Regions from separate parts of the Homo sapiens genome. Here region 1 is linked to region 2. A link means that fine-mapping ties the variant in region 2 to the expression of a gene that starts in the linked region. Tissue or cell type: gastroesophageal junction. Region 2 holds a variant in brackets; the other region holds the start of a gene. All regions are shown on one strand. Distances are from middle to middle.

Region 1 (2,767 bases), 300 kb after region 2:
ACATTTAATTTATTGACAATTTAACCCACTTTTATGAAAAGTATTGATGAGCAAAAGGTGGTAAGATGATTTTCTAAAAATCATTAAGTTTTTTATTAATTTCAAAATTATATAAACTTACAATTTTAGCTTCTTAAAGAAATGCAGAGTATTTTAAAACTAATCTTTATAAGCATTACCCACCCTCAAACCTCTTTCCTGTTTTTCCTTAAAAGCCTAACGAGGAAAATTGATTTTTAAGTGTTGTCATCTCCGTCTAGGTACTAAAGACAGCCAACATTACTATTGTTGTATATCTGTCTTACTCTTGATGATACAAGTATATTGATGATGTAATTGCAGAAGTTAGGGTTTACTCATGCTGTTGGACCAAAGGGATTTTTTTAGACTGCCTCCTTGAGCACCACAGAACAGTTGTAAAACAGAACCAAGCACACAATTTAAGCAATTCATCTCTTGAAAGTAAATCTGCAGGATCTTCTTCTTGAAGAACTGATGAAGAGCTAGAAATAAAAAAATCATTGGTAAAGCTTCTTTTGCTTCAGACTGGATGCTGAGCTGGAAAAACACTTGGGTGACACACTAGTGTATGACATCTTGGCTTTTAACCCTTTCCTAGAAGCCCTCAACTTTTGTTCTCTGTTGAGCTCTATTTTTTTCTTCCAAAATTCCGAGGGGTTATGGAATATCCCAGCCTTTCATCTCAACCCTATTTGTCCCTATGTAGATATTCTCCTGAAAGTTGACTGGAAACTAAGCAGTCATTTATCATTCTGAATTCTTTTTTTAAAAGCAATGACTGAGAAGTCATGATGCTCCATAGAATCATGTACATTATAAAAACAGGAGAGCCGAGATTTTACAAATATATCTGCTACGCTAAGAGAACCCCATGGTTGTGATTTCCAAGTGCAAACAAAAAGAAGGGACAGGAAAATACAGACAGAAAATCGCATGCAGATGAAGCAGTGCGTGCAACGGAGGAAAGAACATACCTGAGGAATTCTCCTTTAAAAAAAAATGTGCACGCCAACTGGGTTGTTCTTCCCCTCCTTTTGGAGTGTATGTGTTTTCCTTTTAGGAACACCACTTGCAATTGTGTTTCTAGTCTCGTTTCCTTTTTTCAATCACAAATAGTTAGAACAGGAGTGGAAGCTGCGTCCCAGGGATCCGACTCGTGCAATCAGGCATGCCTTGGTCTGCAACGGTGTCTGTTCTTTTCTTGTCAATTCTATCGCACTCCCGGGTAGCCTCCGAAGCAATTCTACAACTTAGCTGCTGGCAAGAAACTGCCTTTCACTCTTCTCATTGCCAAATACCTTCCGCGGCTCATTTCTCATCTCTTTCTCCCAGAAAGCAAAATGGGATCTCTCCCGTGTGTTGAGGAGCGCCCAGGCTCATCAACATTTGAGGGTGAGGAGCAGCCGGGCTGAGTGCGTGCTGGGAACTTCACACATCGCCGGCTGCGGCTGAGTCTTTTCTGAATGCAGCACCGGCACTGCGATCCCCAGCCTCCTCCACCGAGAGCGCCCGGGCTCCCTCTCCTGCCGCCGTAGCACGGCGTAGCTCCGAGAGGGTGAGCTACAGCCCCTGCTCACAGGAGACGCACTGTAGCCACTGCCAGGTGTGGCCTTCACCACCGCACTGACAACTAACTGTGTGGGACACAGCTTCATCGCTGGGAGACGCCTGAATGCCAGAGCTTCCTCAGCCTATCTTCCCTTTATCGCTGGATGATGACCTAGGAGACAGTCATGGCCAATTCTGCCAGTGGAATAGCGTGGATAATACTAAATTACCCATGTTATTCAACAATGACTGTTTTAGATGTACTTGACTGTACTTGGAATTATGAAAGTATACCGCACACAGTATCATTCCCTATTAGCCACCAAATGCAGCTAACAGGACCCTGTATTTAAATAGAGGAGATACTGATATCCCATCCCAGTTGGTTTTTCCTCTTATTTTTGTGGAAAACCATTTGAAGGTGATTCCTGAACAATTTCAATTAATGACACATGCATAAATCAAAGTGGGAAATGATGGGTAACTTACAGTGATGCAAAGGTTTTTCTTCTCACTTAGGAATAATGTCTTTTCATTTGATGTTAACATTTTAAAGATCTGGCTGGGAATTGAATGGACTTGCTTTCTCTTTTAGTTTTGCTGAGTAGAGGAGGTGGGGGGAGTAACAGTTCCCACTTTCCATCAATAAAGCATTTTCAATCCTCTAATCCTCCTGTTGAAACAAATAAAAAAGTACTGAATCTTAAAATACAGCCTTAAAGCAGCTTGAGGCCTGAAATAATTTGGAGGTTTTAAGCTACATCTGCTCTACTGCTTACTTAAAATTTTACTTTTCTTTGCTTTTTAGAAAATGGAAGGATATTTCCAGGACTGAAGAACGTCAACTAGCAGCTGTGGTTAAACAGTATAGGAAGCATATATACAGATTTGTATGGCATTTTTCAGTACATGGAGGGATGAATATGTCTTGACTGACATTAGAATTGACTCCACCTAAATATTCAATAATAATAGTTGCCATCAAAATAAACAGTTAAACCGGATATAGCATTTTGTGGCAAAACTTGTGGCAAAACATTTCACCTACCGTATGTGACAACCAATAAATAACCTCTCCATGATGTTTAAAAAAGTGTCCCCAAATGTGACACAATATATATGTTGGGTACTAGCAGCTGAGCCCTCCCCATTCCCAGCTATCAGCCCCACCTTTAATTCAGAGCAGCACAGCTTCCCT
Region 2 (2,767 bases):
TAGAAAAGAAGAGCTGCCATCTTTCAAGAAACTTTGAGGCAATGATGGAAATGCCAGTAACAAGTTGTGGTTCCATCAGCTTCCCAAACAGACTTTATCTGAACACCAAACTTGAATCGGGAGAGGCAATCACAAAAGTAAACACTGTCAACTAACATCCCTCTCATCCCAAACATGAGCAATACAACAGCACAGTACAGGCTTATACAAAGAAGATTGTACTAATCACCAAGGAACTGCTGGAGAAATGTTAGGAAATCTCACATTCCAATTAACTTTTCCACTTAAGTCTAAGCTTCAACCAATTATCTCAAACGGAGCAAATGTTCTTAAGAATTCACAAATAGTAATGTTGGTTATTCCTCAGTCCTCTCTGGGCTCTTTTGCTAGATGTGAAAAATGCAAAGAGATGGAATTTTTGAAAATGCCAAGTCACTGCACAAATACCACAAAACACTTGGCAACACCTGTCATATTTTGGCACTGGTACTCATCTGTCTGCAGTATTGCCCTTTATCATTAAAATGCAAACTTAAGTGCCATAAGAACTAAAGTTGAATAAATATGTTTATGAACATCTGAATGAAAAATTTACCAGACACCTGTTTGAATGTATTTAATATTTCCAAAAGTTTGTGTAATAAAACATAAAACAACCCAATTTGATCAAACATAAGCATAGCTTATATTTTAAAAAGTATAACAAATACTGTGCTCTAGGTGATAAAGAGGTAAGACTGATGGTTCACATAGAAATCATTCTGATGAAAGCGATTACTTTAGGTTGAACCATATAATATTTCCATTTTTATAGGTCAAAAGGGTCAAATGTCAAGAATTTCACATGGCTCGATTGTGTAATGACCAGTTCTGCATGATGAAGAAGGATGTGTCCTAACTGAAAATCCAGTATGTGCTTTGCAAGTATAAGAAAGATATTACATTTAAAAAAAATAACTAGTGCATTCACAAAACCTAGTCTGATTATTAAAGATACTGAAGAGATCAGTGTCGGGGAGATGGAGAGAAGAACGGCATTGTACAGCTTAACGACAAAGTTGAGGAAGCCCTGGGATCATCAAGATATACTAAATTTGATTCATTTGAGAACAGCATTGATCCTAGAGAGGATCATTTAGACATTAGTGAATGCTTTTCCAGAAATTCAGCCATTCCTCAGGGAACTTCCCAATTCCTCTCTCGCCAGATAGGGGATTAATTTTGTCTACTCAAAGAAATCTAAAGCTTTCAAGCTCACATGAGAATATTAACCTGACATGTGACTCTAAAGTAGGGAGCAGTAAAGAAACTTCTGGCTGTTAAGAATTTTCTTGGAGTTCTAAAATCACAAGATCCATACTCATAAGGAGTGGCTGATAAAGAAAAAGGGTAAGATTTCTAAAAAGTGGTGAAAAGAGAGTTGGGTGCCAATATTTAAAAAGGCACAGCAAAAACTAGGCAAAATAGTCAGAGGTCTCAGGTCAGGATGGAGTGGCCAAAGATGGTAAGGAAAGTTAGGTCGGTAGAGAGCATTGACATAAGAGTTATTTTTGAGTTGCATGCCACGCTGATC[C/A]CTTTTCCATAAACAGAAAGTTATCTAAGGGGATTGTTTCTCTCTGACTGTGCACCGGCTACTACTTGTACTTAAAGGACTCTAACTGTAGAGTAGCCTCCAAAATCTGAGATCGCCTGGAGTGCCAGTTCATCAATTTATCAGCTACTTAATTTCCCCCAACTGTATCATTTTTTTCTACAACATTACTCTCATATTATGAAATAGATTGGGTTCAAATCATTTGGTTTCATCTCAATCCTTGTGATTGAACATGCAATTGAAAAATACAACTGAATTATTTGTTTTAATTCATCCTTGGAACAAAGCAAGGAACAAATAATTGCTTAAAATTAAATATTTATTAAAGCATGTCTTAAACCATTTTAAATATGGCCCTTGTAGCAGCAATATTAAAAAGATAAAGTTAATGTCTCCTTTTTGATGAAATTTTCCCAGCACATATACTTAATTATCTGCCAATTAGTAGAGTTCTATAAAGTAATAAACCTATGAATGCCAGAGGGCGCCTTAGGCATCATCTTGCAGTGAAAAGTCATGCCAAATGTTCCCCCAGAGTTAGTGGTAGGTTTCCATCTTGTTCTTTCTTAACCTTATACATTGTTCTGTAAGGACAGGGTGAAAAAAGATGATATGGATCTAATCATAATAAAAGCTCAAGAGGTTACTTCCTACTTCTTATTTTAGTGCTTTAACTAAGTCAAAAGAAGTGCTATCCATTTTATTGTCCCTCCCAGTCCAATTCTAGTCAAAATCAGCTTCAAAGTTTACTGGGTAGAAACATAACTGAAAGAAAATAACAAACATATAATGAAGACTAAAGGCATTCTTAACATTTCATCAGGCAGGAAAACATTGTGGAGATGCTGATAAAAATGTCAACATCTGAGTTCATATCATAATGTTTGAGTATCGTGCACAGAAAAGAAAGGCATGTCTTTGGAATTATTTGGAAGAAAATGTCATTGAAAACAAAGGAGAAATAAGAGTGAAGCAATAGTGCAAATAAATTTTTTAAATTAACAGTAAAAGTTTATAGAAGATGCTTTCATTGGTAAAAAAATCAATTATAGAAATTATCTTTTGAAAATAATTATTAAACATATTTTTATGCTTACTTTATACCCAAAATTATTTTAGGAGGTTGTCCTTAAGTAGCTCAAAACTTAGGTGAGGAAAATTACAGTAACATAT

Alleles and levels. Alleles are on the strand shown, and positions count from the first base shown. SD is a standard deviation of normalised expression in the study named.
With allele A in place of C in region 2, the expression in gastroesophageal junction of the gene that starts at base 1,482 in region 1 is lower (moderate effect, 0.46 SD a copy in GTEx).

The links. PIP is the estimated chance that this variant, and not a neighbour inherited with it, causes the effect.
Region 1: it holds the start of UNC13C, and the variant in region 2 is fine-mapped to the expression of UNC13C in gastroesophageal junction (GTEx, PIP 0.98).

What each region holds. Positions count from the first base shown.
Region 1 is chr15:53,977,156-53,979,922 of GRCh38, reverse strand. UNC13C (unc-13 homolog C) reads right to left here and starts at 1,482. Exons shown (of 33, transcript NM_001080534.3): 1 at 996-1,482. It overlaps LOC124903495 (a long non-coding RNA gene), which reads left to right. Exons shown (of 2, transcript XR_007064646.1): 2 at 2,378-2,573.
Region 2 is chr15:54,276,837-54,279,603 of GRCh38, reverse strand. All of the region lies in intron 10 of UNC13C (unc-13 homolog C), which reads right to left. Among named protein-coding and RNA genes, the nearest start is that of UNC13C, 300 kb to the right of the region's middle. The variant C/A (reference allele first, on the strand shown) is at 1,574.